Linked DNA regions of Homo sapiens. The protein of the gene in region 2 interacts with the protein of the main gene of each other region in a pairwise test. Each region holds a gene or a part of one and is shown on either strand. Other genes may lie near its edges. The genes, in order: HSD17B14 and PGLYRP3.

The links.
Region 1: the proteins of PGLYRP3 (region 2) and HSD17B14 interact in binary tests that used the Homo sapiens proteins (3 or more experiments, as listed by UniProt).

The regions. Positions count from the first base shown.
Region 1 is NC_000019.10:48,826,369-48,830,186, forward strand, and holds part of HSD17B14 (L-fucose dehydrogenase), read right to left. Parts: intron 1-3,818. UniProt on the Homo sapiens protein: Catalyzes the NAD(+)-dependent oxidation of L-fucose, yielding L-fucono-1,5-lactone, which rapidly converts spontaneously to L-fucone-1,4-lactone. Can also act on D-arabinose and L-galactose, with lower catalytic efficiency. Does not use NADPH.
Region 2 is NC_000001.11:153,302,768-153,306,585, forward strand, and holds part of PGLYRP3 (peptidoglycan recognition protein 3 precursor), read right to left. Parts: intron 2,299-3,818; coding exon 2,180-2,298; intron 1,243-2,179; coding exon 1,090-1,242; intron 1-1,089. UniProt on the Homo sapiens protein: Pattern receptor that binds to murein peptidoglycans (PGN) of Gram-positive bacteria. Has bactericidal activity towards Gram-positive bacteria. May kill Gram-positive bacteria by interfering with peptidoglycan biosynthesis.

The DNA.
Region 1 (3,818 bases), on a different chromosome or scaffold from region 2:
CTGTAGTCTCAGGTCCTCGGGAGGCTGAGGCAGGAGAATTTATTGAGCCCAGGTAGTCAAGGTTGTGGTGAGCCGAGATCCTGCCACTGCACTCCAGCCTGGGTGATGGAGCAAGATTGTCTCAAAAAAAAAAAAAAAAAAAGTAAAAGAAAAGAAGAAAATATATATATATATACACACACACACACACACACACACACACACACATATATTAACTCTTCATGGGCTGAGGTGTAGGTGTGTTTTATGTGTGGAGGTGTTTTTAGTGTTGGGTTAATCCTAGAAAGTCAACACAAATTTGGAACAGGAGCCAGGGTTCACTGGTTAAGCAGGGGATTGCCCAACCTCCCGGGAACATTTCACCTGGATCTTGGATGCGACCTCAGAGTCAGCACCTGAAGCTCCCTGGACACTGGGCCCGCCCCCAGGCCTCTCCCCTCTTTGCCTACTCTTGCTCCCCTGAGTTCCTCCAGCCTCAAACTGGTCAGCTGCAAGCTGGTATCTCCAGAGCCCCACCTCCACGATCTCATGCCCAATGCCCATTCCCACCAGGACGTCCACCAGGCAGTTCATGTTCAACAGCGCCCCCGCCAGGCTTTCCTGCCACAGTGAATGGCAGCTCTGTCCGGTCAGTTGCTCAGTTGCTGGAGGTGGGGAGAACAAACCTAAAACCCCACTTTTTTTTTTTTTTTGAGATGGAGTCTCGCTCTGTCGCCCAGGCTGGAGTGCAGTGGTGTGATCTCAGCTCACCTCAACCTCTGCCTCCTGGGTTCATGAGATTGTCCTGCCTCAGCCTCATAAGAAGCTGGGATTACAGGCGCCCACCACCACGCCTGGCTAATTTTTGTATTTTTAGTAGAGACGGAGTTTCACCATGTTGGCCAGGCTGGTCTCGAACTCCTGACCTCATGATCTGCCCGCCTTAGCCTCCCAAAGTGCTGGGATTACAAAGACATGAGCCACCGTGCCTGGCAAGGACAGGGATTTTCTTCTGTTGTGTGTTCATAGCTGTATGCGCAGGGCTCCGCATGTTGCTGGTGCTATATAACTATTTGTTGAGTTAATTAATTAAAAAGTGCTATGCGGAGAATAAAGATGTTATGGAGAGTGGATGTTTGTGTGCAGCTGTTGCATAAGCAAGGGTGAGGGAAAGGCTTTGATGTGTGTTCTTCTCCTTCGTTTTTTTTTAGATAGAGTCTTGCTCTGTTGCCCAGGCTGGAGTGCAGTGGTGCAATCTCAGCTCACTGCAACCTCCATCTCCCAGGTTCCAGCAATTCTCCTGCCTCAGCCTCACGAGGAATTGGGATTACAGGTGCTCACCACCATGCCCAGCTAATTTTTTGTGTATTTTTAGTAGAGACGGGGTCTCACCATATTGGACAGGCTGGTCTTGAACTCCTGATGAGTGATCCACCCGCCTTGGCATCCCAAAGTGCTGGGATTACAGGTGTGAGCCACCGTGACCAACCCTTCTCCTTCCTTTTTTTTTTCTTTTTTTTTTTTTGAGACGGAGTCTCGCTCTATTGCCCAGGCTGGAGTGCAGTGATGCAATCTCGGCTCACTGCAACCTCCGCCTCCCGGGTTCACGCCATTCTCCTGCCTCAGCCTCCCAAGTAGCTGGGACTACAGGAGCCCGCCACCGCGCCCAGCTAATTTTTTGTATTTTTAGTAGAGACGGGGTTTCACCGCGTTAGCCAAGATGGTCTCGATCTCCTGACCTCGTGATCCGCCGGCCTCGGCCTCCCAAAGTGCTGGGATTACAGGCATGAGGTGCCGCGCCCGGCCAAAGGCTCAACTTTTTAAAGAAAAAAGGACGAATCAAGAGAGGCGGTGATTACAAAAGTTGTTCATCAGGAATTGTCATTGGTTTACAGACATCACATTGATTAGTGATTGGCTATACATGTTTGAACTATAGAGTGTGTGACACTCTAGAGCTACTTGGTATCAGGTCGTCTAGAGTCCAGAAACCAAGTAGCCTCAAAAGGTAATTATTGGATGGGTGCAGTAGCTCATGCCTGTAATCCCAGCTTGAGGCAAGGAGTTCGAGACCAGCCTGAGCAGCATAGAAAGACCCTGTCTCTACAAAAAAGTTAAAAATTAGTCAGTCATAGTGGTGCACCCCTGTGGTCCCAGCTGCTCAGGAGGCTGATACAAGAGGATCACTTGAGCCCAGGGGTTCGAGGCTGCTGTGAGCTATGATGGTACTCCAGCCTGGGCAACAGAGTGAGTCCCTGTCTCAAAAAGTAATTAAAATACATTTTTATAAAGTCCCTCTGAGCCAGGTGCGGTGGCTCACACCTGTAATCCCAGGAGTTTGAAAGGCTGAGGCAGGAGAATCACTTGAGCCCAAGAGTTTGAGACCAGCCTGGACAACATAGTGAAACCCCACCTCTATTAAAAAATAAAAAGGCCAGGCACAGTGGCTCATGCCTGTAATCCCAGCACTTTGGGAGGCTGAGGTGGGTGGATCACGGGGTCAGGAGTTCAAGACCAGCCTGGCCAACATGGTGAAACCTCGTCTCTACTAAAAATACAAAAAAATTAGCCAGGCGTGGTGGTGAGTGCCTATAATCCCAGCCACTAGGGAGGCTGAGGCAGAGAATTGCTTAAACCTGGGAGGCAGAGGTTGCAGTGAGCCGAGATTGTGCCACTGTACTCCAGCCTGGGTGACAGAGTAAGACTCTGTCTCAAAAAATAAATTAATTAATTTTTAAAAAAGTTGTTAAAAAGCCCCTCTGGGCCTGATCCTGATCATCTAAAGGGGCTCTCCTTTCTCAGATAAAAAAGTTTGTTTTCTTTCTCATTCCCTCCCCAGCTCTCCCCCAATTCTTGTTTAAGACAAGGACTCGCTCTGTTGCCCAGGCTGGAGTGCAGTGGCACAATCACGGCTCACTGCAGCCTCCAGCTCCCAGGTTGAAGTGATCCTCTCACCTCAGCCTCCCGTGTAGCTGGGATTACAGGAGCACCACCATACTCAGCTAATTTTTTTTTTTTTTCTGAGAAAGAGTTTCACTCTGTCACCCAGGCTGGAGTGTAGTGGCACAATCTCAGCTCACTGCAACCTCCACCTCCCAGGTTCAAGCAATTCTACCGCCTCAGCCTCTTGAGTAGCTGGGATTACAGGCACCTGCCACCACGCACAGCTAATTTTTGTATTTTTAGTAGAGATGGGGTTTCACCATGTTGGACTCCTGACCTCAAGTGATCTGTCCGCCTTGGCCTCCCAAAGTGCCAGGATTACAGGCATGAGCTACCAGGCCTGGCTTTTTTTTTTTTTTTTTTTTTTGTGAGACGGAGTTTCCGCTCTTATTGCCCAGGCTGGAGTGCAATGGCACGATCTCAGCTCACTGCAACCTCTGCCTCCCAGGTTCAAGTGATTCTCCTGCCTCAGCCTCCTGAGTAGCTGGGATTATAGGCATGTGCCACCACACCCGGCTAATTTTGTATTTTTAATAGAGATGGGGTTTCTCCATGTTGGTCAGGCTGGTCTCAAACTCCCGACCTCAGGTGATCCGCCTGCCTCGGCCTCCCAAAGTGCTGGGATTACAGGCGTAAGCCACCATGCCTGGACTCCATGCTCTTTTTAAAAATTAATTAATGAATTATTTTTTTTTTGAGACAAGGTCTCACTCTGTCACCTAGGCTGGAGTGCAGTTGCACGATCTCAGCTCACTGCAACCTCCGCCTCCTGGGCTCAAGCTGTGATACCCTAACCTTGTTTTAACCTGAATTGACTCTCCCTTAGGTGAGCGAGCCAGACAGACTCCATCCTGGCTCCTTCACTTGCAGCCCCTTAACCCAACCCCCCTTTCTTC
Region 2 (3,818 bases):
GTTGGGAGGTTTCTGATTCAGATGGCTGGAGCCAAGGGGCTGAGGCAAAAATCTACAGGCCTGATACCAATAGAAATCAGCGTATAAGCAGAAGGGAAAGGGCTGTGGGTTATACAGAGGCATGGTCATTGTCTTCAAAAGACCATGCATTGCAAATATATATGCAGGTATGTGCGCTTATGTAACAGGGCTACTACGCGGAAGTCAGTGGACTCTCCGAACTGATCACACATATTTGGAAACAACTTGAAATCTAGAGAGAACTGTACAAATATTAAGAAATTATCATTATTGAAGATAGTGCCTGTCCAAAAGCAAGAAACATTTTATTTGAGATTTACAGTTTTAAAAAGCTAATTCTAAAAATATCATTGATCCCAAGAAAAGGTCCACTAGCAGGAGTGCTTATTAATTTGACTGGTTTTAGGTTGCTGCTTATTCACTTCAAAATAGTGCATTATTTTTATTACTCAGCTTTTTGTTATATGCACTCTGATGTCAGCATCATCTGTGAGCACAAGCTTTTCTCCGAGCTGTGGCTGTGCTGTGGCCATGGCTGGTTTTTGCATTTAGAAAGGTATGTAAGCTTATGTATGTCCTTCGTGTCCCCACATAATAGACACAACTATGTATACATGTTAATCCCACTCCATTCCCACTCTATTTTTCTCCATAGCTTTTATGCCGTCTAACATCATATACATTTCTTTGTTATTTTGTTCATTTTCTGTCTCTTCTCACTGAAGTGCAAGCTTCCTGAAGGTGAAGAGTTTCATCTGTTTTGTTCACAGCTGTATGCTCAGTACTTAGAACAGTGCCTGCTATGCAGTAAATATTTGTTGACTGACTGAAAATCTGTGTACATATGTATTTGTTTTAAGAAGAAGTCTATGGCTATCTCATTCTGATGGGATGGAGAGGAGGCCAGGAAGATGCCCTCTCAGAATTTTCCAGATCTCAAAGTAGGCATGAGATGTTCTTAGTCCCAGAATCCCATGGGGTCTAACAGGAAAAAGCACTCCCAAACATGACTCCAAACATGGCTAGGTGGTGACGAGGAGGAGGGTGAGGTGACATGGAGGGTCTTACCCTTCCTGGGCATCACTGGATGTTGAGGGTCCAGGCAGGTCTCTTCTTTCAGAAGAAGTGGCTGAATATACCTGGGCGACAGGTGACCCTTCTGGATGGCATAGGAGATCAGACCCTCTGCAGCTGATAAGGCAGCAGGGCTGGGACTGCTGCCTTAAAGAGGAGGACAGGGAGCACAAAAATGTCAGTAAGAAACTCCACCTAGACCAGACACCTGCAGAAAGGATGATATGACCACTTGAGCCTGAATAACTGGATTGGAAGAGAGGAAACTGGTCCAGTTGCCAGAACAGAGTGCCTAAGAGGCGAGAAGCTACCTAGATCTCTTAGCAGCCAAGGTTGAAAACTTCTTCCAAGAGCCAAGCTAAGACTTTATCCACTCCATCTCTAGGCAGAAGAGCTGGAAGGCAGTGAAGGATACATGCAAAGGGAGGCCCACCTGACCAAGTCAGGTGTGCACTAGCACAGGAGAAAAGGCAACCAGAATTTACTCATAGCTCCCCTGATCAGGTGTGCAGTAGGCTTTTTATATCTGTTAACTCATAACTCTCACAGAAAACCTCTGAGAGAAATGCTGTTACCTAGCCCCAGCTGTCAAATGAGGATGCTGGCAGGTGCTGGTTCCATATGTATTATTTCTCAGCTCCATCCCTGTTCTGTGCTTTTCTCTATTTTTCTAGGGGCTAGAAGCCTGCAAATTATACCTCCAGATTTCCTTGCCTGCTGCCTTCTGGTCACTTTCTACCAGTGGAACTGGAATAAGAGATGAGCCATGCTTCTCTGCCTCTGGCAGTCACAGCATCTATGTCAGACAACCTCAGACTTTAGAAGTGACAGCAATAACCGTGAGCTCAAGCAACGCCCATGCAAGCTTCAGCAATATCACAGGAGTACAGACCAGTAAAGAGAGGCAGAGGACAAAAAGTATGCATGTCACAGGATCCAAAGGAGAAAAGAATTTCAAGAGAAGGGTGATCATCAGAGAAGGTAAGTATGATGTAGGGTAAAAAGATGAGTGTTGACCCTTGGGAGTGGAGGAAGAGAGTGTACACAACTCTCCAGCACAGGGTCCGCAGGGAGTGACCCTTACCTATCTTATTGCCAAAGAAGGCGATGCCCAGGGAAATGTTGTTGTAGCCCTGGGTGTGCAAGCCTTGGATGTTCCAGCCAACACCTTCATACACCCTGCCATCATCCCCAACCAGGAAGCTGACAAGAAGGAAATAATGATTTTACTGCAAATCTCCATAAATGAAAACCTCTCACTGATCCTCAAAAGGAAAAGGGGTTCTGGAGGCTCATAAGTAAGTACTATGTTCCAATAACAAAACAATAGGAGGTGCAGAATAACCAGTTTTAGACCTCCAAGAGACATGGGAATATATTTTAATTTTTGTTGGGATTTAGCTTGCATGTGTTTTCCAGAACCTCACTTCAAAAATACTCATTTGGTTCAAAGTGGAATTTGACTGCATGACACTCAAGGACCTGAGGACATTAGTTCAATGCTTTTCAAGAGCTTAAAAATTACTACATCATGTTTTTAAATTATAGGACCAAACACTTGAACATTCTCTAAAATAATTATGCCAGATTCAATAGTTCCTTTTGTATTGATGTTTTTCTTCAGATTCTCTTTAGGAATTTCCTTAAGCTCTTCTTTATCATAGAAATTTGTTTAGAATGTTCCTTTTTCACATTTACTTTTTAAATCAATTTTTTATTCTACTTCTTTTATTCCTGCCTCTTTATAATTTCTCTCCTCCACTTTCCAATCAGTCTTCAGAATTGATGTTTTCACAACTTTGCCGTATTCATCTTTTAATAGAACATGAGTTTCCGCAGCAAACTGAACACAGAAAGAACACCTCCCTTAGGTCAAGGAAAGACACTGAACTGAGTCAGGCCGACTTTCCACCCTACACCGATGTCGACATGAGGAATGGGTGTGGAGCCTGGTGTGTCCACCCCTTCCCTGGCTTTGCTGCCAGTACTTTCACAGGTTCCTTGGTCACTCCTGCAGCAGCCTGTGGTTAGTACGGTGTGAACAGTCCCTTACAGCTACTGTCAGCTGCATTGCAAAAACTGGAGATTGTCAAGTTGTCACTGTAGAAACCTGACTTAGAGATGCAGAGGCTGAAATAACTTAGGAATACAGTGACCAAACCAGAAAACACAGCAGCGACAACAGCAGGATGGTGGAGGTGCTGGTGGCAGGGGCAGCAGGTGAGTCGTGGTTGACATGACATGCCCCATGGGCAGACAGGGAAGACCCAGCCATCCCAGGGGTGCTGGGGGCCAAAACCAGGGCCTGCAGCTGCTCTTATTTATTTGTGTTTAAAAATAAATAAATAAATAAATAAGACTTAGATTTTCCTTTCCAAAATGGATAATTCAGAAATTATTTATGTTTGTCTTTAGAGTTCCATGCGGGACAGCCCCATTCCCACTCTCTCTTTCCCTCTCCTTCTACATGTGTCTCCTCATTCTTGAGGCTAAGGGAGAAAAGGTTCTGGGCTTCCACTGATGATCCCCAGAGCAGAAACTCAATGCACAGTGCACAGCTCCTTCATGCCCTCCCTTGTTTCTTGCGGGTCTCTCCTCCCCGCCATTCCCAAAGCCCACTCTCCCCGGTGGGGTCCCCGGACTTGCTGTCAGAGTGGTCTTTCAGGGTAACAAGTGGGACACTGCTTCCCAGGTGCGAGTCCCTGTGAGGTGGGGAGGAGCAA